2 linked regions of the Homo sapiens genome follow. The protein of the gene in region 2 interacts with the protein of the main gene of each other region in a biochemical or structural test. Each region holds a gene or a part of one and is shown on either strand. Other genes may lie near its edges. The genes, in order: SRPX and PELO.

Region 1 (16,514 bases), on a different chromosome or scaffold from region 2:
TCCATATCTGAAAATATAACCAAAACATTCTCATCATCATCAAGAAATATCTAGTCAAACTGGGGTTCAACACCCACAGTTTAAAATACCAAAGCCTCTGGGTATTCTCCATTTTCAAAGAGTTTGTTCACCCTATATATTCCCCTTTTCTCCCTTCATAATGCTTTTACTCTCCTGCTAAGTTTTGAAGATTGTTTAAATACTCACATTTGCAGGGCTAAACCTGCAATCAACTGGCCTTGCAAGGTGTCCTGTGGGTAATTCATTAGTTACAGCCTTTCCTCCCCATGCTTCCAAACTCTGCCTACCGAAGGCCACATGGCAGTTACCCAGCTGAAACTAGAAGTCATTTGGCTTTAGTGAGTACTTCCTGCTTTGAACACAGCATCATGGAATATTACAGAAAGGCATTCTAGCTATCATCTAGTCAGATTCAATTCAAGGCAACAAATTTTTCATGAGTACCAATCTTATCCAAGGCTTCATTCCAACTGCTGGGGTTGGGGGTGCACAAAGGCAAGAGAATCATGTGCTCCTGACATTTCAGAGAATTTGCCATGTATTGGAGGGATTACATTATCACACATGAAATATAACATGAGGTAGAAAATGGCAATTGCCCCAGGCAAGGTAAAAGTGAATGCTATGGAGGTGTAGAGGAGCCGCCCAACTCTCTCATTTTACAGATGTGCAAACTGAGGCTCAAAGAACTTAAATGATTTATTTAAGACCACACATGTAGATAATGGCACTGTGAATTACAATCTAAGTCGGAGCACTTGCCACTGGAACAAGCTCTCTCTCTTCCTGCTATCTATTATCAACATATTGCTTAATATCTTAAAATAGGCAATGGTCTGTCTGGGTCCACTCTCCCCTTGAACTGCTACTGAACTACACTTATGGTTTTATGTTCTGGGACAGCAGTTTTACTGTGGCTCTGGACCTCCAAAAGCCTCCCAAATTTCTTCAAGTAGTTTCTCTACCTGGTAATAGGAGTTCTGCCTCGATAGTGATAACAAGGATGGGTGGTTAATGAGGGCTCAAAGTAAATGAGATGTCAACTCTACACTGGGTTGTATTTCATCTTATAGCTGAAGTGAAATCACAAGAGGAAGTTCACATTTCTGCAAATTCTACTTAATATTTCTGAACAGGTAGAGAATGTATTTAAAGAAGGCATAGCAAATTAAGGACATTCAGCTTCATGTTACTTTACATATCAACTGATAAGTATTAAGTGCTATTACTGCCTTAATGAAAGTTAAATGTCCTTTTGATTCTGAATGACAGATGTCTTTGAGAGACTAAATGCACCAAGTAAAATTCTTTATATACTTTCTCCTGTGTCTTGTCTAATAATTTCTCATTTTATTCAGGGTAAGAAGTTACGAATAACTTATTAAACAATTTTGCCTTCAGCTATCCAAATTCATTTTCATTCTATGTCGTGCTTCAGTGGAGTGTGAACTTAACAGCCTTAATGCACCAATCCTAAATTGAATAACCACCATATTTTGTTGAATCTAAGTCACTCCTAATTGTGAAATGCATCCCTATTTCAGGGATATTAAAAGGTAGAAATAATACGCTTCTCAGAATTGATAAAATAAAGTATACAAATACTATGATGAAATGGAAGATGCTTTAAATGCATTCAAGATGTCTATACTCAGCTGTTACGTTTTTAAAAACATTTAATTTTTTACTATGATAGGTGATAGAAGACAAACTTTTATAATTCAGATGAACATTTCACAGAAAGACAAGTATATAATGACTGCCCCCTGCTGGTCAAATATAGCTGGCAATTACATTATAGAAAGTATATTTATTAGCATACAGATTTCAATGTAAAATTACATTGTGTTACCATATTTTCTTGGTGCAGCATGGTCAGAGTGAAAAGCAACTTAGTCTCTGTCAGGTAAACTAAATGTCTGGATGATACATTGTTGTTTGTTTTCTGTATCAAGATGTACTAACAGTGTAAGCACACAGGCTCCAAGATAGGTTATCTGGGTGAAGAGTCTCAGAGTTTCCCAAAGCCAGCTTATCTCTAGCTAACAATGATCAGCTGAACTGGCCTAGCTTTTCAGAAACAGTGCTCTTCCAAAGAAGAAACAAGAAGAAATAAATCATTACAAATAATAACTAATATTGGAGGACTCCTTCCTACATGCCCACCCCATGCTAAGTACCCTCCCTATATTATTTTACTGAATTTGCACAACCACCCATTAGACTAAGCAGTGTTATTAGCATCCTCATTTATAGACTGGGAAGAAGCATTTCCTCTCTTTTGGAATTTCTTTGTGGTCTGGGATTTTTAAATGCCATTACATATTTTAAAGCTATTTTAATAAACCAAACCCTTTTGTGTATCTGCCTGCTGCTGACCTAGTGTTTTCCGCCAACCTTTGCACACATACTGTTTTGTGATGGTCTGTCATAGCTTCCCCATGAACCCTTGAAGAGCCTCTGCAGGACTTGATCCTGACACATCCTCAAGCAGCTGCCTTCTCTCTCGGCTGGTGAGACAAGCTGGTCTGCCCTTCAGCTGATGCTCCAGAGACCTAAGCCTGTTATTACCCAGACTTGGCCCCGATAGCATTTTATAAGTTATACATTTCCATGAATGAAAGGAACAAAGTTACTATAGAAACATAATTACTATCCCCTGTTGAATTAGGATGCCTGCAATTATATAAAAATCTTGAAACCTTCAGTGAAAATTCTGGCCTTTGCTCTCTGCCACATTCATTGGAGACATCTGACAAACTGTCTCCCTTCTCTGTGCTCTAGTTATCTCTGTGCATATAAAATATGAGATACAAATATATTGCATTGTATCAACTACTATTTATCTAAGAAGCTGAACTTTTTTTTCGAGACAGGCTCTCACTCTGTCACCCAGGCTGGAGTGCAGTGGCACAATATCGGCTCACTGCAGCCTTGACTTCCCAGACTCATGTGATCCTCCCACCTCAGCCTCCCAAGTAGCTGGGACTACAGGCATGCACCACCATGCCTAGCTGATTTTATTTATTCATTTATTTATTTATTTTTGTAGAGACAGGATTTTGCCATGTTGCCCAGGCTGGTCTCGAACTCCTGGGCTCAAGAAATCTGCCTGTCTTAGCCTCCCAAAGTGCTGGGATTACAGGTGTGAGCCACCAGCACCCAGCTGAAGCTGAACTATTTACTTGGAAATCCTTGACACATCTAACCCGGTAGGTAGTGGAAATAAGGAAGAAGCTCAAAAGGACAAAGTCTTGCCCAACAGATAACAATAAAATGCAAGGGAAGTGACCCTGTGCCAGTTCCAGACCTAGGCCCTCAAAGAATCTGGTGCCTTCTGCTTTCACTATGTTAAAAGCCAGCTGCCATCTAAAGAAGTCCAATTGACTGGAGAGGCCATGTAATCAGGATGAGAAATTATAAATGAGAGAGAGAGAGAGAAAGAGACTCAGCCAGACCCCAGTCAGTACAACTTTTCCCAACTGAGGTACCAGACCTGTGAGTGAAGCCATCTTGAATCCTCCAGCTCCACTTGGTCACCTCAACCATTACCACATACAGCAGAGATGAGCTGTCCCCACAGAGCTCTGCCCAACTTTCCAACCCATAGAATCTTTGAGCAATAACATAGTTGTTTGGAGCCACTAAGTTTTGTGTGGTCTATTGTGCAGCAACAGATCACTGATGCAAATATAAAATAGTTTGAGTTTGGTGATAGAGAAAGGAAGAGTTCTTTTCAAGGGGGCATAGGAAGTGAGTGACTGCCAAATGCAGAACAAACCTGGCCATTGAAAACTCATCCAGTTGTTTGCTTCCCCCAGCCAGAGCGTAATCTCTGTGGATGGCTCTGGGAAGTGGTTTCCTCTGTTTGGCACCATACAAAAATCCAGAGAACTTTCCAAAACAGACAAAAGAGGCAAGAAGGGAGGCAATGAAATCCACATTTAAAAGTCATGATCATAGCCGGGTGTGGTGGCTCATGCCTGTAGCCCCAGCTACTCAGGAGGCTGATGTGGGAGGATCACTTAAGCCTGGGAGTTCAAGACCAGCCTGGACGACATAGCAAGAGGCCAGCCTGGGCAACATAATGAGACCTCATCTCTAAAAGTCAACATCTTCACAAGAAAGAAGCCCAAATAAAAATTCATTGGTGATACATTTATATTAGAGAGAGCCACTAAAAGTTGACCTGTTCTGTTTGTACTAACAAATCATGTAAGGGAAAAAGTGAATCAGTATCTCAGTCAATCAAGTTGTTTTAACTGAAACTAGCCTCTGAAAGTTTGCAAAAGAATGTGTATTTGTCAACCCAGGAAGAATTTAGCACAATTTAACATCATTTGCAACAATGCATGGATACATTCATTCTTAGCCCTACTGATGTTTGCATCAACTGAATAATGCAATGCAGCCCAGCAATAATGCAATGATCCCATTCCTATGGGTCATTGGGTAAACCAGCTGTGAGACAGCTGGGACACAAGAAACGTATGCCATCAATTTCCATATATTACATCTCCAAAATGTTTTATTCCAGAATTTCATTTGTGTTAATAAATCTCCACCTATTCTACTCTGTAGAAAACAAAAAATAAGTGAGCAAAAAATAAAATATATTTATTTAAAAATATTTTTTCCTTGATAGATAATTAGAACTTAAATGTGTTGTCTGGTCACTTTATTACAATCCGTTCCACAGGGCAAAAAGGAAAGTTTGTACATTGTCTTTTGTTAAAGTAATTAAATGGATACTCTCTGAATGTCAAAAGACCTTTGCTGGTTTTTCATTGTCCGTGGTTTTTAAAGTATCTTTAATTTGTTTTCTTCCTGTTTTGGCCTAGGAAGAAGTGTTGGTCTAAAGGAGAGATCATGTGTCTACTCAAAATCTGGTCTTTACATGAGGACTTGTTGTGATTCCAACTGTTCATTGTTCTATCTAAATGCCAACATAACCAAAAATAACTAAAAATGGAAAGAAAGAAAAATATCCCCCGAAAACAATAGTGGTTACATTCTAAGGTTTATTTTCTTCCAGATCAATGGAGGTTGTGGCTCTTCAAAGACTTTTTACCCTCCTGCAATTTGCAGTATTTTTTTTCCTCCTACATTGACTTATTTTTATCTATATCTGTTTCTGAAATAACTATGAATTTCAGCTCATTGCCAGAGTATGGTCTGTGTAAGAGAATTAATTTTAACTTGTGGCACCTTCAAATTAGCCAGACCACAGAACTGACCACCTCAGAGTCCAAAGTAAGCCCAGTCTTCTCTCTTCCCTCACAGTCTAGAAGAGAACTGGGACAACTTTCTCACCACTCAGTACAGCTCTGGCCAAGACTGTTGAAGGTTGTGTGGAAATCTGGGAACTACTTAGCCACTATGTGTCACCTCCTAAAATAGGTTGAAGTTCTGAGTTACGCTCAAGGACCCCCTACCCCTGTCAACACAAAAACAAATTTATTAAACTATTTTAATACATTTAAAGCCAAAAAAGTAAATAATACCCCTGGAGTAAAATTCACTGGGGACAAACCTCAGCTTGTCTGTCGCGAAAATCAAAGAAAGAATTGCCTGCTTGCTTTGCCCATTTCTCTCTTTTTTCCTGGGAGCTCTAGGCTCTCTTGTGGATCGCTGTACCCCTTTTTGTCATCCCTAACTAATTGCATGTACAATCCTCCTTCTCCCAAATATGCCTGAACCTTGTTCTGACAAACTGTAATATGAATCTCCTGAATTTGGGGTTCATTCTCTCTTCCTCTGGGAAGGTTCCAGGCGCATCTGGTCCAGCTTAAGACATGCTGTTGGTTTTTGAGAACAATCAGCATTTTCTTTCCATTGTTGCACACAATCTGGAAATTTAAACAGTATGATCCCTAGAGTACTCTGCCAAAGCTTGCTTAGCAGAAAGATTTTTGAGCTTCTCTCCTCCCACCATCACCTCTGCCCCTTCCAATATGAGGGAGTAGATTCAATTTTCTTTTTGGTTTGTTTTGAAGAGCTATGCACATAGCTAATCACAGGGAGGATATTGAAAGCAACATCTGTGAGGTGCCCCCTGTGGGCAGTGTTACTGGCACTTAGTGAATAAAATCCAAGGATGCTGCTAAACATCCTGCAAACAAAAAAAACAGGGCTCCACAACAAAGAATTATTTGGCCCCAAATGTCCATCATGCTGAGGTTCAGAAACTTTGCCCTAAAGCATCGTTTAGCAGAATCCTAGGACCCACCGCAGACCTGCTGAATTTAAATCTGCATTTTTCCCAAGGTCCCTAGAGGACTTCGCTGCACAGTAAAGTTTGAGAAGCAGTGCCTTAGATCAGTAGCTCTCTATTTGAGTGCCTCACAATCCCTGGAATGCTCATTAAAAAACAAAATGCTGTGCCTGACCCCTAAAGTTTCTGACTCAGCAGGTGGTGGGGGTGGGTTGGTAAAAATTTGCATTCTTAGACCAGGAGATGCTACTGCTGCTTCTGCTCCCAGGACCACACCATGGGAACCACTCACTGCCCAACAAACCCAGAGTAAGGCAAAATATCCAAATCCCTTCCAGCTGAACAAATTGAGTGCTTGCTGACCACCAGAGTCAATGACAAAGAAGCTACATTGGGGCTGAAAGACACATAGATGTTCTCTACTGGACTGTCCCTATAGTGTCAATAACTTTGCTCAGGCCCCCGAACTAAAATCAGCAGGAGTATGCCACATCTCTGCCAGCCTGTAGTTGCCTCAATAGCAAACCAAGAAAAAGACAAAAGTCAGATGGAAGCCATCAGCTACGAAGTCAGCTCCAGGATAGACACTGAGGTTAGATCTAGGGCTGAGCCAGAGAACCAGTGATGCTACTGAGAGCAAAGTTGCATGCTTAGGCCTTACAGGAGGAATAGTGATGCTCCCTTTACAATCCACGATGTGAACACCCCCTGCTCCTCCCAAAGCAAGTGCCTCCTAAGGGCTGTGGCATTTTCTTACCCACACAGGAGGCTGGCCGGCCGCTCCAGGCCTTGTTGTCCATACATGTGACGGTCCGCTCCCCTTTCAACGTGTATCCTGGTGAACAATAATACTCACACCGGGAGTTAAAGTAGGCACCATCTACACACTTAAACCCTCCATTTGCTGGCATGGCAAGGGTAGGACATCGCTTTTCTGAAAATGAGAAAATCAGATATTCAGCATTTCTTAGTTTTTGTCTATAGAGTTTCATTTCAGAGTCTAGAAACTCTGAAAGCATGAGGTGAAAAGTTAATTTAAATATAAGAAGGCCAGGCGCAGTGGCTCACTCCTGTAATCCCAGCACTTTGGGAGGTCGAGGCAGGTGGATCACCTGACTTCGGGAGTTCGAGACCAGCCTGACCAACATGGAGAAACCCCATCTCTACTAAAAGTACAAAATTAGCCAGGCGTGGTGGCGCATGCCTGTAATCCCAGCTACTCGGGAGGCTACGGCAGGAGGATCGCTTGAACCCAGGAGGCAGAGGTTGCGGCGAGCTGAGATTGCGCCATTGCGCTCCAGCCTGGGCAACAAGAACACGACTTTGTATAAATAAATAAAACAAATGGAATTTAAGAAACAATGGATGGTTTTATGTCACACAGAAGACACAAAGTTTCCTGTCACACTGGCTTGGGTTGGCAACCCAGCTAAGCCACTATCTTAGGTTGAGCTCCCCAGAAGCAGATTCTGAGATACGGATTTATGTGCATGAGGTTTAGTAAGAAAGTGCTCCCAGGGAGACTAGTGAGGGGGTGAGGAAAGCAGAACAGGGAAGGGGAGAAATCCAGGCAAGATGAGATCTCAGGCAAAGTCAGCAGCAGCCTGATCCCATAGGGAAGCTCTGGAGTGTGAATGACAGCTCATTCTGTCCTGCCCCCAGGCAAGGAAGCTGGGCTTTCATAATTCTTTATCAGTCAGTCATTGGGCAGCTACAGGCTGCTCACAGGAGATGCTTTCTCTTGTGAAAAGAGAACGAGAGTGAGAGAGTGAGAGAGAGAGAGAGCGAGTGGGATCAGTCCTCTGAAGGAGCAGTCTTCTGAATAAGGTTGAAGTTCCAAGTCTTTAAGAGCAAAGTACTCAGAAGCTGGGTACTGGATACATACAACTAGTAAAAGGCATCGAGGAGATCTGGGTAGAGCAGATTGTCCACTACAGTCACCCAGTTGCAGAGTCTGCATAGTCTCGATGACATGGCTGCAGCCTTGAAACCTCAGTTTCCCTGACAATGAAGTTAACATAATGGCACCCATATTGATAGTGTTACTGTAAAAATCAAATGTATGTGAAATTCTTGGCAAACCATAAGCGCTCAAAAAGTGGTGGCTGTTTTGAATACCAAAGACATCTAAAATGTGCTTCAACAATGCTGTACCACTTGCAATTTTCCAAATGAGGTATGACTTGTCATGAAGCTAAAAGCCAGCCCCTGAAATGCTGCTCCTCTAAGCTTCTCCCTTGAGGCACACTCACTTTCATAAATAAGCATCACTTCTTCTGTGACTCTTTCCTGCCTCCCTAAGCCCCACTCCTTGGGAGAACACTTTTTTTTTCTTTTTTTTTAAGAGATGGAGTCTTGCTCTGTCACCCAGGTTGGAGTGCAGTGGCACAATCTCGGCTCACTACAACCTCCGCCTCCCGGGTTCTAGCAATTCTCCTGCCTCAGCCTCCTGAGTAGCTGGGATTACAGATGCACGCTGCCACACCCAGCTAATTTTTTGTATTTTAGTAGAGATGGGGTTTCACCGTGTTGCTCAGGCTGGTGTCGAACTCCTGAGCTCAGGCAACCCACCCGCCTCGGCCTCCCAAAGTGCTGGGATTACAGGCATGAGCCACTGCGCCCAGCCAGGAGAACTCTTCTTTAATCTGCTACCATATGTCCCTGACTTTGTACCCTTCTTGTACTTATCTCCCAGTTGACACCTCTGCCTTACTAAAGCCTCTTCATGGCAGGACCCATGTGCGTCTTATTTGTTTCTAAATCCCCAACACCTCTTCAGGATCCAGCACTAACTGAACAAATGTAACTCATTTTCTGAACAATGATCTTCTCTCCCCTTTTCTCAAACAGCTGATCATATCATTCTCTCTGAGAGGAGCCAACTCACTTCCACCATATCTTAGAATCCCCCTGGTGTCCCCCTGATCATAAGGAGAATTTTTCTCATCAATATTCAGTGAAAATCCTCAATCTCAGAGCAAAAGAACTTTGGCTCTGGTCATCCCTGAGGACCCAACACAGAGCTGGCCTACTCACGTTTGCAGATGACCTTGTCAGACCATCGTTTGTTTGACTGGCAGATCAGTAGGGAAGAGCCATGCAGCTCGTAGCCCTTCTGGCAGCGAATGTCGCACCTGGTTCCCAGGGCTGTTTTGTAGTATCCTCCTTGAGGGGCCCTGCAGTACACATCCCCATACTTCACCTTGATGGGGGAGCACCACGGGGTATCTACAAGTAGCAGAAACAAAAGAGGAGATAAATATGAAATGACACTTTCAGAAAATGTGTCCCCTTACTCTTACTGTCCCAGGCTGGCTACATTCCAAATTTTGGACCTTCAATTAGTGCCCCATGTTTTCTTAGGTGTCTCCGGGTAGGGAGGTTATGATCATGGGACTAAGTGTCAGATATATCTGAACATGAATCTGAGTTCCTCTATAACTGACTGTGTGATCTTAGACAAGTTAGCTAACCTCTCTGAGTCAATATCTATACTTATGCCATAGTGCTGTTACAAGGACGAAATAAAAATTGCATATCAAGCATCTAGCACAGTACCTAGCATATATGTTCAATAAATGCTTGTTCTTTTTAGTATTTCCCTTAACTAGATACATAAGATTTTTTATTTTTATTTTTTAGATAATTCTTTCAAGGGCAACTGATGTCATACATAGCGGTAGGGATTCAATAATTGGTTAATTTGGATTTCGTCTGAGCCGTATGCACATTCTCTCTAAAATGTTGTAATACTGGCATTAATCTAAATGATGCTACAATTTCCAGGTGTTTGTAACAAGATATAAATTTCGCTTAAAGTCACAGAACAATTGCTCTCCATAGAGAAGTGTCCCCAGTTATGCCCCATTTACGTAACAGGGTGACACCCTCCCCAGATGGCAAAGTTGCAGGTGTTTTGATTTTGGTCTCATAGTTGCCCAAAGCACAGCTGGGATGAAATGAATAAATCAGAACCTCCCTGCTGTGCTTTTGAAATGTTCTCTTTGAGATCCATAAAATATAAGGGCAACACTAGCTCCTTGGTGGATAAGTTCCTACAGCAGCCACTGCCCCATTGTCCCACAATTGATGGGGAACAGTGAGGAGTTCCCTAAAGCCTGCCGGGCTCTCAATGCCATGAATAGGAGCCACTTCCCTGCAACTGCCTGGCTCATCACTCCAACCCAGCACCTGAGCTGTCAGTGAGTGAGGTAAGACCGCCATCATGTGGCCAGGAAGGAGGACAGACCCTGTTTTACTTTCCCAGGAATTCTCTTCTGAGGATATGCCTCCAACTGCTTCTCAGTTACAAAAACCAACAGTTCTGGCCACGTCTTATGCATAGACCACTGTTTTAGTTTTGCCTTCACATTTCCTTCAGCTAATACTTTCTCTTTTTTTTTTCTTTTTTAGAAACAGGGTCTCACTCTGTCACCCAGGCTGGAGTGTAGTGGCATGATCATTGCTCACTGCAGTCTCGGCCTCCTAGGCTCAAGTGATCCTCCTGTCTCAGCTTCCCAAGTAGCTGGAACTACAGGCACGCACCACCGTCCCTGGTCTGGCTAATACTTTCGTCATATCATGTTTTGCAGACAGCTGCAAGTGAGCCCTAAACTCAAGACTCAAGTAATCTTCCCTGGACTTTCTAGGTAAAGGTGATGTCCTAAAGGCTTAACCTAGAGCTGATTAAATTTAACCATGTGGATATAAACGTGTAGGAGCTCACACAAGGCCTAAAGAACTTCCTTGAATAAATTTTCCTTCCTCTAAGGGTTTTAATATAATCTGTATGTACTACATATATTTGTGATATACAGTACTCCCCCTTTGCCCACGGGGGATATTGGATGCCTGAAGCCTTGGATAGTACCTAACGCTATATATACTGTTTGTTTCTTACACAAACATACCTATGATGAAGTTTAATTTATAAATTAGGCATGATAAAAGATTAACAACAACTAATAATAATATAGAACAATTATAACAATATACTGTAATGAAAGTTAGGTGAATGTACTGTCTCTCTCTCAAAATATCTAATATTTTGGGGCTGCGGTTGACTGAAGGTAAATGGAACCTTGGAAAGTGAAACCGCAGATAAGGGGGAACTAATGTATGTATATATATGACCTGCATACTCATACATCACAAACTCACTCAATTAATATGAATATATGATGGTATTCCAAGCAAAAGAATCAAAAGCCATGCTTGCCACATACCAGGAGCACCGTAAATGTTGGTTACATTTAATTTTCTTTCTTATTTTACTTTAATTCAAAAACACTTACTCTGTGCTGGACATTGTGCAGGGGCCTCAGGATCTAAAACTAAACCCTCACTTAATAATGGCTTGTCTCTAGCTTTTAAAATTAAAAAAACTTGGCCAGGTGCAGTGGCTCACGCCTGTAATCCCAGCACTTTGGGAGGCCAAGGTGGGTGGATCACCTGAGGTTAGGAGTTCGAGACCAGCCTGGCCAACATAGTGAAACCCCTGTCTGTACTAAAAATGCAACATTAGCTGGGTGTGGTGGCGTGTGCCTGTAGTCCCAGCTACCTGGGAGGCTAAGATAGGAGAATCGCTTGAACCTGGGAGGCGGATGTTACAGTGAGCCAAGATCACGCCACTGCACTACAGCCTGGGTGACAGGGTGAGACTCCATCTCAAAAAATAATAATAAAAATAAATAAAACTTAAATTTTATTGTATGAAGCGCACAACATGATGCTTTGATATACTTATACATACTGAAATGATTGCTACCAGTAAGCAATTTAACTGACAATAGAAACAATGCCCTAAGAAAATTTATTCTTAAACATTCAGGGTAAGTTCTAGGGCAAGCACACATTTTGGCCATCTGGTCTACCTGTCACATTTGCAATGCTGTGAGGTGAAGATGGATGTGAAGAACAAGGACCTGAGGGCACTAGGCAACCCCTGCTGTAGATGTGAAGGGTCATCTGTGCATGCATGTGTTTTAGGAAGATTTTTCAACAAGGGACTCAAAGAAAAAAAAATCTAAACCCATAAATAGTTAAGAAGTTTTGCGAATTAGAACCTTTCCTTACCCCAAGCATCTGATTAACGTATTTGTGCTTTGCTTGATTGGTTAATTCCTGAGGCTATGGAGATAGAAACTATAGGTAGGAATGAGTATTTGCATTCAGATCTCACAAAAAAATGTGGTATGTGATGGGAAGCACACCTGCACATAAGCACCAGGCACCAGTCATTATATTGGAAATATTGTTCACTTGTGTAGAAAACAACTGAAGGACATCTCCAGTCAAAAGTTGTCCAGTCCTACCCTGATTCTCCTGTATCTGAGACACATCACAACAAACAAGGGCCATGTCCTCATCCCAGGAATTAGGACAAATTTCCAGGGCAAAATGCCGCAGTGAAACTTTGTTAACCATTTTTTTTTTTTTTTCAAATTCTTCCTCCACTGTAAGAGGAACTAGATTCAGAGAGAAAGCATCTCTAAATTTACCTTCATTTCTCCCAGGTTTCCCTAAGCTTCAGAGAAATGTTTCACCAGTAGAAATATTTGTGGACATACTTACCTGAGTCTGGACAGAAGGTTCTTGTTTAGGCTTTTTATACGTGCTGGGGAGTGGATTGCTGGGAATATGTAGAGATGGAGTTCTTTATCATTAAGTTTCATTTGAGCAACATACTTTAACATACCGTTTCAGAAGCCATGCTGGGCTCAGAAAGAGCACGATGAAATGAGCTTATGAAAATCAAGTTTTCTCCTTCCCCATTCATCTTAGTACATTATCAGCACTTGGTCCAGATTTGACCTTAGGTGGTTTACTCTGGATGATTCTGGCTGTAATGTATGAATTAGGCTTGATTTTCACTTTCATCAGCTACAGCTGCCTTTGCAGAAGTGAGGACAGTAAAGAAACTTATGAGAATAAAATGACCATTGGGATGCTGAAAGACAGCATTTCAGAGATTTCCAATGCATTTTGCTTTATTTCCTTTTTTAAAAAAGGGAGTATATATATATATTTTTTTTTCCTTGATAGATAATTAGAACTTAAATGTGTTGTCTGGTCACTTTATTACAATCTGTTTCACAAGGCAAAAAGGAAAGTTCTCCTGGCACCAGCAGGTCCTCATTAGCACATAAGCAAAGCATTCACCTTTATATCTAGGGTGTGAATACCCGACTTCATCGTCTTCTAGTGGTGAGTCTCCCGATCCTACAATAAAAAAGAACAGAAACTGCAGCAAGAAAAGCCACATAGTATGGACGCATATTTCAAAGCATTCCTTTGCCACAGACCATGCAGGAGGTGCTATTAGAATGCAGAGCCAAGAGCAAAAGCTTCTGTGGCCATTCATGAAGGAACAAACAGGAGATCTCTCAGAGTGAAACCGGCTGAGCTGAGATTGCCAAAAACCAAGCAAAATGAGCCTCAAACTGTTTTGGAATCACCATATGCCAAGTGAAATTCTGGAATAGGGAAACAGAGAGAGTCAACTTCACTCTGAGAAGATGCCAATGTATATGAATCTCATGCCAGGGGAGATGCAATAAAATGTGTGCATCAGACACAGTCCACAGTTTCCCCAGCAGTCAAAGAAAACCCAGTAGAACTGGGTGTTTATGGTACCTGAAAACAGGTCCATCTTGTGAAATAAATTTAAATGCAAGATAAGGAGGTAAATCAAATGTCTTATCTTGACAAAAGAAACACAAAGTTGCTTCTATATACAGCATTTGTAGGAAATGAAGGCTGAAATAGACTATCTGTGTGCTTATTTAGAACCTCTCATGAACGTATGGCTCAAGTAAAATTTCTTTTTTTTTTTTTTTTTTTGAGACGGAGTCTCACTCTGTTGCTAGGCTGGAGTGCAATGGTGTGATTTTGGCTCACCGCAACCTCCGCCTCTTGGGTTCAAGGGATTCTCCTGCCTCGGCCTCCTGAATAGCTGGAATTACAGGCATGTGCCACCATGCCTGGCTAATTTTGTATTTTTAGTAGAGACGGGATTTCTCCATGTTGGTCAGGCTGGTCGCGAACTCCCGACCTCAGATGATCTGCCCGCCTCGGCCTCACAAAGTGCTGGGATTACAGGCGTGAGCCACCGTGCCCAGCCAGTAAAATTTCTTAATGAGCGTTGCTACCAATAAAAACCACGGCCTCAGAGAGAACGTCTGTGTATTATTTTAATTTAACTCATTTGCAAGCTGGAGCTGAATGGTTTTTAAAATATTAAATATTGAATTCCAGTGAGCAGTAAATCCTTAATCCTTGAAGTGGTAGCAGATGCCAAACTTCAAAACTGTAATCTTAAATTCAGAGAACTTCCCTCCAGACTTCACAGTCTAATTAATGACTCGAGTTAGCTCTGTCTTGGTCACGCATTTAGTTGTAGTTACTTGCCACCATAACAGACAAGAACATCCTCCACTGTGAGGTTATTCAAATCCCCATGCAGCTAATGAGTAATGGTCCCTGTTCCACTTGTGTTCTGGATGAGAGATGTAGAGTGTGGAAACTGAAAGTGGAGAGGAGATGAGGGCTGGACTGTGTTCATTAGGAAAAGACCCGCAACTACAGAAGCCCAATTCTGTATTTTCCTTTGCTGCAGATTTCCTCACCTTGTCTCTGCACACCCAGATGTGTACAAAATTACAAACTATTCATCATTGCATATAAAAAAATGAGCACTGGAACCAGACACAGTGGCTCATGCCTGTAATCTCAGAAACTAGGGAGGCTGAGTGGGAGAATTACTTGAGCCCAGGAGTTCAAAAAACAGCCTGGATAACATAGTGAGAACCCATCTCAAAAACAAAACAAAACAAAAAACAATGAAAACCAGGAAACCTACCTAACAACATGAATCAAAGGCCTATGCTCAAACCCTTTGATCAAGTCATTCCACTTCTAGGAATCTACCCAAGGAAACAGTTGAACTGCATGTCTGCATGTGAACCTTCAATCATCCAAATTAAAAAAAAATCCAGATACATGAGCAGCAAGCTTTCTCCCCCCGCCCAGCCCTCCAACACACATATACACACATACATATATTTTGCCCTCGGTTGTCATCCTGGTTAACTTGTCTACAGTATTTACAGCATTTAGTATGAATGACTACCCATTCATTTCATGAAGCTCTCTTCTGCAGTGGCTTCCAAATGACAACAGTTTCCCGATTTTCTTCCTCCTTTCTAAACAGACTCTCTGGACAGCACATCTAGATCAGCCTGCCATTTGGACATAAGTATTTCCCAGGAGTCCAGTATTGGTCCTTTACATATCTCCAGACTATTTTCCTGGGCCATCTCACTCCCATACTTGCCTCAAACCATTCCCCATGTACTGATGATAAATCCATTGTTTCTAGCCTTGAACTGTCTCCTAAGAGCCAAGCTAGAATCTTCAACTGTTGTCTGGATATCTCCACACTCACACTCAACCTGCTCAAAACCAGATTCCTTTTCTTATCACCAAATTTGTGCATCCCCCAGTGTTTCCCATTTCAGCAAATAACCATCTTCCAGCTACTCTGCCACATGGAAAATCTCAGCCTTTTTTTCTTCTATCTTCTTCATCTACCACATTCTAAGATAGGAATTAACTTAAATATCCAACTACAAGAAATGGTCAATCATATTATGATCCATTCATAACATAATAATGTTCATTTTGAAGAGGTTTCTTAACATGGGAAAATATTATAGAATGCTGAATGAATAAAGAAAGAAGCATAACCCCCAAAATGCAAAAATGCATTAAGATTTTAAAATATGGCAAAGCTCATGTGTGAGAACAACAATATGGATGAATAAAACTAAAATAATATTGTGAGCAAAGTTGGTCCCAGAAGACTATATACTATATATACGACTCCTTTTTTATAAAGTTCAAAAACTTCTAACACTAAATTGTTGGGAAATACAAAGATATGTACGGTAATTTTTAACAAAGCAAGGAGACCTCTTACCCTTTCCTAATCTTCTCTTCTTGAACAACTGAGTTCTAAGGCCTTTAGAGCAAGGCAGACATCTGTACCAGAAAGGACAGGGAGGCATGGTAGGCCAGAGCAGGATGTCAGAGCCCAAACAGGGCATAGAGGGAAAACAGGGGCAAAGAGAGAATGCACATGGGCAGATAGCCCAGCAGGGGAATCACAGATTAGTAAGATAAGGAGGGCTTTCACATGGGTAAGGCGGAAGAAAGCCTGGCATTGGGTTGAAAAGTACAGTTTCTAGATTCCCTTATCCCTAGGTTGTGAAAGGGTCTA
Region 2 (16,514 bases):
AAATAATGTAAACAGGATAAGATAGCAAAAGCTTTTTCTAAGGAAAACTGTTTCAAAGCATGCAGTGTGAAATTTTGCAATCTATCCCAAACAATATACTGCATAGGCATCGTCTTTAAATACACACATTTTCTGTTTCCAAGTACTACAGATAACTCATAATTCCTATAAAAAATTACACAATTTAATCAAGATGGTAGTACGTGGAGATTATTTCCTTTTAGTTTATTGTTTAAATACATGTCTTGCCAATCACAAAATATCTAGTGTAGCCAAAGACATAAGAAATCCCTGTATGAATCAAAAAGTGCCATTCTTGCAGCTTTCTGTCACAAGGATGCTGAGAAATGTACTGTAACAGTTTAGGAAACACAAGATTGTCTCAATTTTAAGTTTCAATCATTAATCCTCTTCAGAACTGGAATCACCCTCTTGGTCAGAAAGTTCGGGAACAGGGAAGCGGAGAATGGCAGCTACCCCAGTCAACTGGCTGAGCTGTTCCCCAGAAACGTGAAGACTAGAGAATATCCTAACGGTGCCTGCATTCTCTTTCACACTGTCCACCAGCCTCACATACCGGCTCCGTGTGGCTACATCCTGATGCCTGAAGAGCTCATCGCTGATGAGCAATGTGTCAATTGCCATGGCTTCATTGGCCTTCTCCACCTGCTTGAGTCCATAGAAAGCTCGATCCGGTTCATGCTGTAACATTTTATAGAAGTCATCCAAGGCTTTGACTTCCCCAGCAGCTTTAGTGTCTGAAAGGCGGCTAGCCACAGTAGGGTCACAAAGGGCCTCTTTCAGGGAGTACTTGTGTCCGGAGGAGGCATGTACCTAGAATCACAATTACAAAAGTTAGGCAAAATAATCTCCTAGAACACCCATTAATCAGCTCACAAAGGCTTAAAGCCAAAAGCGCTAGTAAGGCTTCATATGTTTCAGCGAAGTTTACTCCATAAATTTGCTAGACATTTAACATTCTCTTTTTATTTCATTATCTCATGAAAATCCCAGCTAAGTAAAGACTTTCTCTTCTTATTTTTCCCAGTTCTAAAACTTTAGGAGTAGTTTATACCAATCCCTCTGCCCATTCTTAATTATCCCTGGGTAAGATTGTTTTACCTGAAGAAATTTGGACCGGTTTTCCAGGAGCAGTTTGTTGTCGGTCTTCACTGCTTGTTGAAACAGGTAGTCGCAGAACTGCTCCCTCACAAATCCTGGGCTGGCCACCAGGATGCACTTTACAACATCAAAGTGTATGTGGCGCTGGATAGCCTGGACCACCTGTTCATAGAACCGCTCCAAGGCCCGGTCATGCTGAGAGCAATTGCCTTTCCTTTTCCTAGGGATGTTCACCTCCACCTTGGCCCGAGTGAGGGTCATGCTGGGAGTGACTAAGCAGATATGGGCGAGGCCTTCCTGCATGACCACAGCCGCCACATCAGCGCTCCAGGCTGGGTCACAGGCCTGCTCGATGCGCTCCAGTACCACACTATCCCACTGCTTCTTGGCCAGGGTGAACTGGCGGTTGGGCTCCAGCTCGATGGTGTGGTAAGCCCCCATCTTGACATACTCATTCTCTTGGATGTTGGTCCCCTTAACCCGCAGCTGGCAGGCTTGAGAGTCGAAGTCGATGGCCTCCACGCAGAGAGTGAGGGTAGTGCGGACCCGGTTGCTGCCCACGCTGCCCGTGGAGGACTCTGTCTGTACCTTGCGGATGGTGGAGGCGCGCAGGCTGTCGCCCACCTGCACGAGGTTGTAAGTGTGCCACATGTCCTCAGGCTCCTCGGGGACCAGGGTCACCTGGCCCGCATTGTCCTTCTCGATGTTCTTCCTCACGAGCTTCATGGCCAAGGAAGGGGCTCACTGACAGAACCAAAGGAACCAAGGAGGTCCTCACCTCCGCCCCGGGAGAGGGGATGGGAATGCAGGCCAGGAAGGGGGCGGGGCCCGGTTTCTAAGGGCACTTGCCTGGCGGGAAGGAAACACGCTTGCTTCGACTCATGCAGCCTAGGGCAGCACTTCCTCTATCCTTTCCTCTCTCAGTCTCCCGGCGCGCTGCGTCTAACAGGCTCGGGGAACACTGCAGCGAAAATCTACCCCTACACAGTTCCCGCTGGCAGCACGCAACAGCGGGCTGACGAAATGAAGGCGCATGCGCAGCCCCCGTCCCGCGACCCGACGCACGTCTCCCGTCCCCAAAGGAGAGGCGGGGCCGCAGTTCGCGCGTGCGCAGGCGCACTAAGCTGTGAGGCGCTCCGGACGAATGAACTCCCTCAAGAAGGTGCACAGAGTGGTGGCGAGTCCTTTATTTTAATGCCAAACTTCAACTTCCTAAGTTTTCTCTTCCATCCCTGTCTGTGAAGAATCCGGGGAGTGTGTGAGTGCAAATACTAGTTTTACCTGCCTGCGGCTGCCACTGCAACGCTTCCCTCTGGGTAAATCCAATTTCAAAGCTTAGCAGTAAAAGTAGCTCTCAGAAGTGCAGATTTGGCCCCAACGGCCCAAACTATGCTCGTTTTTGCTCTTGCCTTATCCGCACTCGGACGCTACAAGCCTGTTGGAGCTGGTATTTAGAAGCGGTTTCTGAGAACTACTGGTCACGTTCTGTCTGGGCTCCCAGCAACGTGTCCAGCTGTTTTCTGCGCCTAGTTACCGTGTCTGCACGATCTGATTCACCCAGATGTTAAAGCGCTGGTCCCAAGAGAGAAGAAACTATGTGTGGAATTTACCCCTGGGTGGACCTCTCAGTTGCTTGACCTGATGTCCTGGGAATCCTAGGCTCCAAAGTTGGCAGCCTCAGCTTTCCGCAGCCCAGTAGCCTGTGAAATGTTTAGGTTGGGGGTTGGGTCGCAAGAGCTTAGGGCCAGATCTTCACTGCCAAAGCTAAGCTAAAAGCCGAGGCTATGGGAAGTGGGGAAAAACTATTAACTAGGACTGACCCTGATTGAATAGCTACATAATTTAAAGAAAATCCTTAAGTTACTTAGCATTCTTTATTAGGAAGTGGAAATGGAGAAGTGGGATTGCCTCTTTAAGAGACCGATGAATAGAAAAAACAAAAGAATCTAAAAGTTTCTTGAGAGCTTAGATGGAGTGGAGGGCAGAGAAGTCCTGCACACATAGCTTCTCACTGTCTTTTCTGTCTTTCTCTGTGTGGATTGGAAAGGGGAACTAACCAGCCTGAACAGATGAAACAGGGATGAAAGGAAGGAATCTGAGTTTGGCATAGGCGTGTGGAAGGAAAATAAATCTCGGATCCCCAAACTCATTAAGCCAAAGGGAAAAGTTAAGCTGGGAACTGGGTCACGCAAAACTGCCTTGCCTCTTGGTTTTTAAATGAGATGGCTACCAGATGAAAAGCTACACACCTCGCTCATATTTTGCCCACAAGGAAATTCTCAGTGAGCGCCAAGATCTTTACCATAAAGTGTTTCTATGAAAATTTACCATGGCAATGTAAATAGATAGCTTCTGTTTTCAGGTACAGTCACCCCTCTGCCCTCCTGACACAAATGCATATCTGATTGTTCCCCTGCCCCATTTGTCTATGTTATCTTACGTAAAAATGCAGATTCAGATTGACTAAGCCAGACAGAGGCATGAATGACTATTTTCCCCCTGCTACCCTCTCACATGAAAACTGTATTTCTCAGTATCCCACCCTTTCCCCTTTAAATTTGGAGCCCTCAAAATCATCTTCCCAGAAAGGCATAGACCTGTCTTCCCCGCGCACGTCCTTAATTTTGGCAAATAAACGTCCTAAAATGATTGAGACTTGTCTCAACATTTTTCTCAACTGACAGGCTTCACAATTTAAACTTAAGTGTCATTATCTTCCTAAGAGATTATCAGGGGACGGAAAGGTCCCCTCCAAGGGGAAAGTCCAAATAAGAACCACTACTTATTAATATTTGTGGCCTCTTTTCTCTTTGTTTCTCGCTCTCTATGTCTCCCCTTACTTCCTCCTTCTTCCCACCTTCCTATCATACTGAGTACCCTCAAGAAGTTCCTAATTCACATTGCCTTCTTCCAATTCCAGGAGAACCCAGCAACTTTTCACTAAGCAAAGAACTAATCACACTCAAGTGTGAAGGTGATTTGCCTATCCAAAGGACACTGTATTTTAAAAAAAGTATCTTGTTAACTTAAAATTCCTAATTGGTAGGGTGAAAGTGTGCTTGTGTGTGTATTTGTGAGAGAGAAAGAGAGAGAGAATGAGGAGATAATTTTGAACTGGGGCTTTGAAGTGCTCCTTGATCATCTTTCTAAGTACAATTTATCTTTCCCATAGTCTGCCAAAGATTAAAAGCCACAGAATCACAGTGGTAAGCACACAGTGGGATCTTAACAAAAGGTTTTTATTGAAGAGCTATCACGTATTGAATGTTTATCAAGTTCTTTCCTATGCTCTAATTCTCCCCTGTAAGGTAAATATTTGTTATCCTAATTTTATAGAAGAAAATCAACTATGGGGAAGTTAAGAAATGTTTTCAAGATCACATGACTAGCATTGAAATTCAGGCCTGCATAACTCCATACCCTCTCTTTCTACTACCACCATCCTATATTATGAATGTTTGTAATCATCTCCTTCACTGCAAATTATGTGCTATTATCCACTGTCACTTCCCCTCAACTGTCACCTTTACCAGCTAAACAAAAACTCACAGCTTGGGAACCAACCTAGAGGATTTGAAAGGCACTAGTCCCTTTCCTGCTCTTTTATCACCTCTTAAAATTATTATACTTTTCTCTTCTACATAGTTTTTTTTTTTCCTTCTGTCCAGCCTAGGTCATCATCATACTCTTAGAGAAAGATCTAATGTTCTACTTTAGAAAAATATACATATATTTATCTGTACATTAGAAACCTGTGAAAAACCCTTATTGACTCTTAAATCCATGGTTAAAAAAATTTTTTTTTAAGTTATGAGGCAAACCACTTTGGGCCATTTTAAAAAATATCAGTGTGCCTCCATAATTCAGTATACTATAAAATCTTTCATAGAATTACTGTTGTATGTGAAACAACTGCAATAGTTGGGAACTTTTTTTTTTCCTTAGTAATTTAAGCCTGTAGTTGACTATTAGATGTTTTCACCCAGATTTTGTTTATGGCTTAGTATTTCTAGACCAATCATTATATTTTTATTTTGATTCATTTTGGATTCCCATTCCCTATGAATTAACGTCTACAATCCCAATTTGCACTGGCCTTACAAATTTACTTCCCACTTTTCCCCTCAGGGCACCCTATATTCCACCTTGAAAGTAACCTTTGTTCCCTACATATGCTAGGAACTTTCTCGTTTGCTACCTTAACTCATACTAACTTCTCTGTTTAAAATGTCACTTCCTTTCATCCCTGCTTCCTTTAGTGCTGCCTATCTTTAAAGTCCAGCTTAAATGTTATCTCAAACTTGAAACCATGTAAACTTGAATCCATGTTAATTTAAACATGTATCTTTTTTGTTGAACTCTGGAAGGATTTATCTTTATACTCCTTTGTCCTTTTAAAGGTCCTTTGCACATAGTAGGCACTCATATATTAATGATAAGCTAGGTGAGTCAAATGTAAAGTATGGCAGCTATTTTAACATTATTACAGACATTTCAAGACATTTCTTAAGGCACTTACTTATATTGTTATTGACTGTATTTCACTTAATAATGGTAGTTCAGAAACTGCTGTAGTTATATATTTATTTTCATTTTTTTCCAAATGAGCAAAGTATTGAGAAAAATACCAGGGCTTTTAGCTCTTTTGCTTTAAATACTAATTTTATACTTATGTATTGGCTGTTTAAAATAGAAAACTTTATATCAGTAACTTTATATCAGTATAAATCTTTATATCAGTAACTTTAATTATATCTATTTTCCCTACAATGTCTTATTTATATTAATCTCTCCAGAAGGGGAAAAAAGTATTGTTACCTCCAAAAGTTTTTAATTTGTTGCTCTTGAGACACTTCCAGTGTCTCAAGAAGAGAACTGGGCTAGAAGTCAAGCATCCTGGATTGTAGCTCTTACTCTTCAATTGTTTTTACTGTAACTTTTGGCAGTACTCAGTCTCTCTGGAACCCAATTTATTTCACTGAAGAATTGAGGGAATTGAATTCAATAATTAAATTTCTAACTAAAAATTATGCTGCAGTAATATTTTTTAAGTGTTTAAACAACACCTATAATCTCATCCTAACATATTTGTTTTCAATTTTGCGTGCTATCTTTCAAATCTGATTTTTCTAAGACCCATTTCAGAGGTGAAAGACTGATTCAAAGTTTCTTGTTTGTGGACCAAGAATTGGCAGACCTCAAATATGGTCTTTCCTGGATGGATTCTACCAACTTGAAATAAGTCCCAGACCGCAATAAAGCTAATTATTTTTCATTCTAAATGATAAATAAGATTATTTGTCCTGCTCTCTCATTTGACCATCCTTATGAGGTCCTAGTGATATTATGATACTTGATATTAATAAATTATAGAGCTCTAAAAATGCCTGGCTTGAAGCTAGAAAACTGGATCAGACAAAACAAGGGACAAGAGCTCATTTTAACATGATCATAATTATTCAGCCTTGGAAAAATAACTGGTTTGGTAGAGTTGACTGATGGATAATCTTTGGGGTACATTTATTTATGTTATTTATGTTATTCAGCTCTACTGAATAAAATGGTTCATGGACCTCATTGGTGAGTTGAATTACTATCTTTCCTATTATAATAATATAAAAGAAATGGTTTGTATGACATGAAATGGAATTATGGGCTCCTGAAAGATGGAAATCTTGTTTTAATACCCTCTGCTTAGCTTGTGACCCTTAAACAGTCGGGGCTGTATAAATTTTCTTGTTTTCATCTTGTATTTTATTTTGGAAGGCTTACTTTCCTGCAACACAAACCTAATCTTTTTGTTATTCCTTATAAAGCACCTTGGGAGCCTCTCCCACCATTGTGTCTTTCCATGTCTACTACCTCTTCCACCAGTAAAGGCAGAGACTTACTACCTTTTATTTGTCTTTGTTCTCCTGGAACACAGCATAACAAGTGGCACATACTCATATTTTTAGTATGCAAAAATTAATGGTTATTAATTTTTCTTTAATTCAGAGTTTTTAACTTGTCTGTAACTGACATTCTAAAATTAGGAAATCACATTCTGTTTTATAATGTTACTAAAAACTTAAAAAGAAGGTTACTCTTAAGGTAAGTTTGTATAAGCCTATTTCAATATTTGAGATAGCCGTGCTTAGGTAAGAAAATGGTAATTTAAAATACATCTTCCCCAGGAAAAGTTCTTAAAATATTTTAGAATAACACATAATGGCAATTAGTTTTATTATACATGGTTTGGAAAGTGAACTTTACAAAATAAGAAGCCAGAGCTCCAATTATGAATATCTAGTGATAAACGCAATTGTTTATTTAGAGAGAATGTGCAAACCTCAGATTGTGCAAAGGTTCCCATGTGACCTCCACCAGCAAAGCTAAGTGGATGACTGGGAGGATTAGTTAGCTAATATAGACAAAAGGGTAAAAGGGAAAGTGGTTTTTTTTGTTTGTTTTATTTGTTTTTTTTTTTAAGGAACTTGTACTCACTCACTATCTAAATTTCTCATGATGGAAAGTGCTTACTTGCAGTTGTCACAAAATAATACAAAACCTCCTACCAAATAAACAAAATCCTATGAACAGAAGTGTGTGTGTGTGTGTGTGTGTGTGTGTGTGTGTGTATTTCTATTTGCATGTATTCTTATACGGCATAAGATCATTTCACCAAAAATATTATAAGTAAAATGTGTTACACAGATATTTTTAAGGATTGGCCAGTACCCATGTATTTCTAGACTTTAGTATTTGGTAAAATAAAAGTCTAATTAATAAAATAATTTTGAAAGTACATTTAATTTGTAGTAAGGATATATGATTTGTAACAAAATATATAAACCATCTTAACTATTGATGTTTTAAAGTGACTTAGGTGCTATATTTAAATTTAAGAATTTGCATTTATTTTAGGAGATCTCATATAATTCATACAAAAAGAGTATGTGTATCCACTCCTTTGCATATTTGAATTACAATGATTTCTCATTTCAGATCTCTTACTTATCTTGTTAATAGGGATCTCCTGTTTGGATAAAATTGATTTTTTTTAACACATAAAGTGAATTCCTAACACCAACCAGCATATGCATTTTAATTTCCTTTTAAAACTTAGTTGACTTTTTTATCTTCCTTTTAAATCATAGGAAAGTTTTGATTAAAATTAGTCTTCTTCCTATATACACAACCCTGGAGCTTACCACCAACATGACAAAAAGTTAAGAGTTTGCCAAAGCTAGAGTCATTAATCCTGTGCAACTGGAACATTATATGATTACTTTATTGTCACCTTTCTCCTGAAGCTCTCTTCTAAAGATAGAGCATTTGGAGGGAGCTCTGTTTTTGGGATCTGGTGAGGCTGTTGGTGCCAGAGGAGCAATTATCCCCTAAATCAGATATAAACTTGGCACTTGAAGAGAACTGAGAGGAACAATGTTATATCTCTGTATCTAGATGGGGTTCACATACTAGCCTCTTCAAAATCTTATGACACAATTTTTAAGTGTCCAAACAAATAGAAAAGTACCATGGTAAAAAGTACCATACACTGTATATTATTGATTGTAATTTTCAGACGCACATTTTCCCAATTTTGACATCTCTGAAACTAGGAACTATCTAACAATCTAGCAATTATAATTGGATTGGGAGTGGCTTGTCTTTTTTAGTGGTACATAAAATAATGGTGCATCTTTCAACTGATGGTGTCTTCCATTCCATTATTTATAAATTTGGATAGACAGAAATATTTCAGGCAGAGGTATAATAAAATAAGGCAGAGGTATATAATAAAGGGACAATCTGATCCCTTAAGTATTTTCTGAGTTTGTCAATAGTCAATTCTTTTGCGATTCATTCAATTAAAAAGTGCCTATTATTTCTAGGTGTTATGGTTAAAGATCCTACCCTCACAGAGCATACAGCAAGCTGGAAAGACAGGCAATTAGATAGTTAATTATAATACCGTGGTGCATTATATAATAGAAGCAAAGGTGCTGGGATACACATGTCCTAAGGTAGGGTCCAATCTACTTCAGGGTATCTCTTGGAAATGACGTTTATTCAGGGATTGAGATCAGTAGCAGTGGGAGTAACTACTTATGCAAAGTCCCCAAGGAGACTTTAGAGTAGCTGGCATAATAAAGGAGCTGAAAGAAGCTCAATAATCTTGAAGATAGAAATATATGCAGTCATTTGCATCTCTTGATACTCTACTGTACTTGCTTTGAGGGCGAATACAATTCTCCAGTCACAGACTGCTCTGAATAGGCAATCTATTCTGACTTTAGCACTGTGGCAACAGTTTCAAAATATCTTTCATCTCAGTTTCTTAACATGAATTTGAGTACACTATTTTGTATTTCACACAACAGAAGAGAAGTGTAGGTAAAGAATAGCATTTTAGTCCCCAACTTTTCTAAATATATTTTAAACATGAGCTACTTTATTCTACTAAAATATGTTAAGATGTGGAAATTCAGCAAGTTCTAAATCTAGTGGGAAGTTTATTGGGTTGGAAGTGGAGGAACATGTTAGAGGAGCATCTATCTACTGAAGTCAGAACATCAGTGATAAGCTGTGGCCCAAGAGCTCATGCTTCAAAATAGCTGGGTAAGTGTTATGACAGGAGGGAAGAGAAATAGTTAAACTAGTATAGCATATATATGTGTCTCATGGTTACTCTCATTGCCTGTTTACTAAACAAACAAAAATCCCGTGAATTCATTGCTGCCTTTACAAACATCACAATGAGTAAGACAATTTTCACCATCTTCAGCAATTCCTGACAATACATTGTCTGCCATTGGGAGTCATTCTTTGTTTTGAATAAGTGGCTGACTTCCTCCCCATATTCAGCCATCTCCCATCTCCTCACTGGATTTCATTTTGAATAGGAAATCTTGCCTGTGAAAAGAAGACCCTTGCTTCTAGGCCAACCAAAATGTTTCTAGGGAAGAGAGACATATAGTTTAATTAGGGCTAATTCTATATTTATATTCTTAATAACGAGAAATAGTAGTCTTACTTGAGTTACACTTAATGCTGTACACCTAAAAATCATGGAAATAAAAGATTGACTTGTATCATTAATTAGGTCTTTATCCAAGTATTTTAGACAACTATGTTTGGATTTCACATTTAGAGGAGTGAGCAAGAGAGAATGAACTTATCTTTAGGCAGCCAATATAGCATATTATTTTAGAGCATTTAATTTGAGGTCAGAGATATGAATTGAGTAGATTTGTCATTAGTTCTTCAACTTTGGACAAATGAAATTAACTTCTTAATACTATATTTTGATTTCCTCATCTCTAAAATATTGATAATAGTTATAAAGTTTTAATTTTTTCTTTTCTTTTTTTCAAGGCTAATCAACAAGCTGAGGGAGTGAAAAAAGAACAAAGAAATCTGTGACTGCTTGTGATCAATTAGTAAACTTAATTTTTTAGATTAAAATGAAATAATACATGCAAAGCCCTTGGCACAGTGCCTTGCACATAATACATTTCGGGGTTAAGTTGTGCTAGCTATTCTGTTATTGATTGTCTTGCCCTTTGTTCTCTGGAAGGTTGGATCTTGCCATTTGGGGATGGCCAATGGGAAGGCTGAGCAAGACATCAGAGGGTGGGAGGAAAGGAGGTATATTTATTTTCCTTACTCCTTCTCTGCTGGGCTTCAATTTTGTCACTAGCTGCATTCCTTTTTATGACCACAACTCCAGTCTAATGGCCACCCTCCCATAACTAGAGTTCATAATCAAACTAACACTGCCACCTCCTCAGGCCTAGGAATGGTCATGGTTTTTCTTCTCACCTTGCTTCAGGTTCTTTTTTCCCTACTGTTGCTTGCGCTAGATGCTCCACCCTCTTTTCTTGTTCCTTTAAGGCCTCTCTAAACTGTCACTTTATGAAACTGTCTTCAGTTAAATCCTTTATATGTGACATCAGTTTATGCTGAGACTTTGACATACATAAAATAACAATCCTTTGGACATAAGGACATCTTTTTGATGAATCATTTTAGTAAACGTTGTAAGGAGCTAATATAAGACAGTCTAAATCAAATAGGAAGTTTATTGGGATGCTGGTGGCTTGTTGTTCTGATGTAAACCCAGTTTGGAAGGCTGTAGAGAGTTTATTTAGATGTCAGAGGGTGGTAGGATGGAAAGGTGGAATTCTTTTCTCGATGTATAAAACAAGGTCATATCTTCAGTGGCAAAATGAACATGAGGATTATGGAGAAAGTAAAGAAAAGTGATTGGCTATAATGGACAGTTTATGCTTATGGGTTGTGGTAGGCAGAATAATGGTCTCCCAAAGATATCCATGACCTAATGCCTGGAACCTGTGAATATGTTATCTTAGATGGTAAAAGGGACTTGGAAGATGTAATTAAATTAAAGATCTTGAGATGAGGAGATTATTCTGGTAGGCACATTGTAATTACAAGGATCCTTAGGAAGGTAGTAGGGTCAGAGTCTGAGAAGGAGATGTGATGATAAAGCAGAGTCATGGGGGAAGATCTGAAGATTCTACCCTGCTCGGTTGAAGATGGAGAAAGGGGCCACAGGCCAAGAATGCAGGTGGTGGCCAGAGGCTGGTGAAAACAGGGAAACTGATTTTCCCCTAGAACCTCCAGAAGAAATGCAGCCCTGGTGACATCTTGATTCTAGCCCAGTGATACTTCTGACCTACAGAACTGTACAATAGTAAATTTATGTTGTTTTAAGCTGGTGATCTATGGCAAGTTGTTACAACAGCAATAAGAAACTGACATAGGAGTAGTAGGAGATAGAGAGAGGGTGTTGGATTAGGGCAGTCAGTTGAGAATTTTGGATTTTATCTTAAAGGCAACAAAGAACCACCAAAGATTTTTGACTAAAAACAGATATAGTAAAAATGATGTATTAGGAGGGTAGACTGGAAGTTGGGTTCAAATTGAAGACAGAAAGATAAGCTCTACAGTAGTGTGCATGGATAAGTATGGTGATGAGTCCCCAGGTTACAAACGGACTCTGAATTGATGAGAAGTTTCCAAATCTGAAAGAGATTGCTAAAGAAGAGCCTACAGAATATAATGACTGATGGGAAAGCAGTCCAATTTCAGATCCCTCATGTGTTGCGAAATGGGCATAAATATAGTGCACACAAGGTTTCTAAATATTTTAAGTCTCTTCCTGGATTCACCAATGTATATTTCACCAACATATATATGAAATTGTAACTTGTTAAACTTCTCTGTTACTTCAAGTTTCACTCTTGTCTTTTTAGAGGATACGCAAACCTCATTTCATCATTTCTACTCTAGAGACTGCTTATTTGGTAGAATGAAAAAGTACAACTTGGATAGTAAACTACTGTATTCAGATTTTGCACAAAAACAACAAAATACAATCTAAAAAAATTTGAGTTGGAGAAGAATCATAGGTCAAATATGTGTAAAAAGTAGTGGCAGTAGCTGGTAAGTTAAACCACTCACCGGCTATAATGCTGTTCAGCAGTTACCACTGTTTGGATTATTGGACATTTCCTGAGTAGTGGGAAATGTTTGGATGAAAAGCCAGTAGCTAATTATTAACTCTCTTTACATTACCTCCCTTCTGAAAAAAGCTCTGCTTGCTGATAATCAACTTCTAAATCATCTTCATAAAACTTAACAATGCTTGGCCATCTAAGGCAGGTCTAAACTAGCTGGCTCTACCCTGTTTTTAGTGGTAAAAATGCTAAATTAACTAGTACTAATAACCATGCCAGCAGTAAAAACACTGAACAATTGAATATCAATGATATGTTAAAGCCAGCTGTTAATTAACCCATTAATAAGGTGATTTTCTTTCACACAGAGATTCTATCGATACACTTTCCCCCCACCTTCTTCCATTTTTCACCATTTCAACTTTCCCCCACCCCAATCAGTAACTGGTAAAAAAGATCTGACCATGAGTTCATTATTGGGAAAATCTTACAAAATGCTATATTTCAAGCTTTTTCTAAATTGGATACAACTTTGCATTTCCACTATGTTTTTAAGTCCCCTCCTTAAAAATACACATTTATGTACAAATAACAATACTATATTTTGCATCTTAAAAGTAGACTGCCCTGTGATATTTACAGAGAAAATGTTCACCATTCCTTTCTACGTTTCAAAATATCCCTCCTCTTGGGTGCTGACATAGAAACATCATTTTGGAACAAGTGGCAGTTTCGTCTTGCATCCCTGCCTTTTCTTGTTCTGCATGGGAAAAAAGCCTAAATAGTAGACAGCAAGAAAATTCAATAATGTCCACTCTGGAACAACCCGAGGGTAGGAATTTTGCATATGTATCAGGCGCCCTATAAGCATCACCCTCCCATCCCATGCCATAAAAAAGGGTGGAGGGGAGGAAATATTCAGCAAAGTCCTAATATACAATGTGTATTGTAAAAACAACTTTAATTTTAAAAGTGAATTCTACCTTCTAAGGTTTTCAGTGCTGCCTCACTCCTACTCCTAGGGTGAAGGACTTTGGAGAGACACGAAAACTAATTCATATCAAAACCAGAACGCGAAACTCCTGCCTGCCCCGTAGCCTGGCCTGAGTACCTGGAATGCCCGAAAGTGGATGGGCGCTCTCTCTTCCTATCTGGCCCATGGCTCTGAGGACCTCCCTCCCCGCTCCAAGCCCCAAGCCCGCGAGCAGGAGATGCTCAGAGAAAAGCGAGTCGCTCACCAGTGAGGAGCCAGCAGCAGGCGACAGCGACCCCTGGGCGGGCGCGGGGCCGAGGGGCCATGGCCGGAGCAGCCTCAGCGCCAGGGGGCCGCGCTGGTTCGCAGGGCAGGACCGGGCGCGGGAGCTGCGCTCTCTGGCTGGGCCACTTATCCCGCTGCCGCGGTTCCCAGTCCTCTGCCCCAGTGGCAGCGGCGCCCAGGAGCGGGAGAGGAGTGATTTCCTGTGTTTTCGTCGAATTCCTCTAAATGCGCTCCACGCTTTTCACATCCCAGACGGATTGCCACATCGCCCGCCCCTTCGCGCTCTTGGTCTCTGAAATCTCACTGGCAGCTTCCCAGGCTCTGTCCGAGACATGGACAAATAAAGCCAGCTTCGCGGGTCCGTGTTTAGGCTAAAGTCCACGGGCTGTAGAAGCAAACCTTAAAGGGACATCTGCCTTTCATTGAGAGGGTGATCTCGTTCTCCGGGCCAAATCCCCTAAGGTGGTAGGAAGGCGGGTAAGGGCTGGACCTTCGGGAGGGTGTTGCCAGCCCAGTGGCTCCGCCTTCACACCCCTTACTTCTCCCGGCCCGGGCAGGGAGGGCGCTTTGACAGTGCCTGGGCGCCCTTAACGGGAGGCAGCTTTCCCGGGTCCATTGCGCAGAGGGATTAGGCCGTCTGTGAAAATGCGAGGATCTGGAATCCCCCCTTCCATCCCCTGCGGACACTTGAAATTCACCGTGAAGTCGTTTTGCACGAAAGGGGGCGTCCCCACCACCCCGACAGGCTCCACTGAGGGCTTTGCTTTCGCTTATGGGGGGGTGGGGGGGTTGCTTCGTTTATGGTAATTCGTGGTTAAAGGGTGGTTGCAGATAAGCTTTTCTTTGAGATAACTAGGATAAGGGGAGAAAAGGAGAAGCAAGACGGAGGAAAAACAGTAAGAGGGAGAGCGAGAAGGGAAGAGAGGAAGAAAAGCAGCCTCCTTGGAAATGGAATGTGTGTGGGCTATTTTGTTTAAGTGAATTAGGATGTTTGTACGCTGGTAATTGAATCTAATAAAGAACTCGGGGCACTACTTTATTTTTTTCTTGCTTGAAACTTTCACGAGTGAAAATGCATTAAGAGTCCAGAAGTGCTTAGGAACTTGCAATGCTTCCCTTTCCTGGTGAGTTGAACAACCTCTCTGAGTCAAAAGCCATATTCACCCTAGCTTCAACCAATGCTGGCTATTTTCAAAATAGCTGTGTCTTAGCGGTTTTGAGAATTTCAAAGACAGAAAGAATAAGTGGATTTGTGTTTAGAGGAATCTGAGGGAAACAGTTCAATTCAATTCTTCAACTCAACAACTAATTGAGCATCTCTAGCAGAACTAGGGCTAGGCAGGACAAGAGTGCCACCCAAAGGAGGGTTCGTTGAGCAGAACGCAACACAGGTAGCACAGAACAGGTAACACGAGGGACAGGAAGGAAGAAGCCCACAGGGTTCACTGGATACATTGCCAGATAGAGGATCACAGCAACTAAAAGCTGGAGAAGACAAAAGTTGAAGAAGTTTAAGGAGCGTCAAAAATGGGGTGGGCAGACCCAAGGAGGTTGAAGGCCATCAGATCTCAGTATGTTGACCCATTAATCAAGAAATTCCTTTTCTATTATGTATCTGAACTGATTCACTATTTAGTAAATACATTAAAAATCTCGTTCTCCCGTTTTTAGTTTTTATAATGTCATTTCTCAGTTCTGTCTTCAAATTTACACAAATGAGTCTCTAGAAAAATTGTATTATGTTGGGTCACAGTTCAATCCCATTGGACTTTACTTAAGTTCCTTTGTTTGTGTTCAATGCTCTCATACCCTGCCAAGGAATTCATTTCCTGTGTATATCTCGTTTCCCTGTTGGTAGTATCAGTTATGTCTTATGCCTCTCAGTATGACTCTCTGTGCTTTGAACAGTAACCAATAGATATTGATTAATTCGTAGACATTTAAAAATCATAGTAAGTACTTTCCCAATGATATTTCTCCAAATTGCTTAGTTTTCAAAAACATATAATAGTGTGTCTATATATACACAATCATGTGTATGTATGTATGTGTACATATATATGTACAGCATATACATACATATGCAAATACATATATGGCATTTTAGCAAATTGCAATATATTTCATTAGAAAAAACAAAAAGAAATTGTAAAATATTGAAATAAAGTAGGGTTAACATATAATATGTTCAAGTTTACAATTACTGGGAAATTTACCTTTCTTCTGGGGGCTAATATATAATTTCAATTTTAATATTTTTATTTCCTCTAGGACTTACAAATTATTGGTGATAACCATCACTAACAGTGATATTGTTACAATTAATTTTCACAAGTTACAAATTTTATGTTTACATGTTTACATATTTATGAATCTTTTATATGTCTAGTCAATACAAATGTAGAGACTGAGAGATAACTATGGTTAGAGAATTAATTTTAGAATCAGTGCTTATTTTCTGAACTTCAATAAACCCAAATACAAATAAATGTCAAGCCGGTTATTTTCTTAACCAATTTTATTCTGACTGACAGAAAGACATGTCATTGAGTAAAGATTTAGAGAAGACAGAAACTTGCCCAGAGTCACAAACTAGTTATTGATATGAGACACTTGATGACAAATGTTTCAGCTCTAGACTTTATACTACATACTTTTCTATTTTA

What was found.
Region 1: the proteins of PELO (region 2) and SRPX form a complex in vitro, tested with the Homo sapiens proteins (one study listed by BioGRID).

What each region holds. Positions count from the first base shown.
Region 1 is NC_000023.11:38,164,889-38,181,402, forward strand, and holds part of SRPX (sushi repeat-containing protein SRPX isoform 1 precursor), read right to left. Parts: intron 13,457-16,514; coding exon 13,397-13,456; intron 9,464-13,396; coding exon 9,272-9,463; intron 7,170-9,271; coding exon 6,993-7,169; intron 8-6,992; coding exon 1-7. UniProt on the Homo sapiens protein: May be involved in phagocytosis during disk shedding, cell adhesion to cells other than the pigment epithelium or signal transduction.
Region 2 is NC_000005.10:52,785,729-52,802,242, reverse strand, and holds the start of PELO (protein pelota homolog), read right to left. Parts: upstream 14,328-16,514; 5' UTR 13,890-14,327; coding exon of another isoform or gene 13,829-13,889; intron 2,439-13,828; exon of another isoform or gene 2,359-2,438; 5' UTR 1,849-2,358; coding exon 1,123-1,848; intron 835-1,122; coding exon 403-834; 3' UTR 1-402. Other genes in the region: ITGA1 (integrin alpha-1 precursor), read right to left, coding at 13,829-13,889. UniProt on the Homo sapiens protein: Component of the Pelota-HBS1L complex, a complex that recognizes stalled ribosomes and triggers the No-Go Decay (NGD) pathway.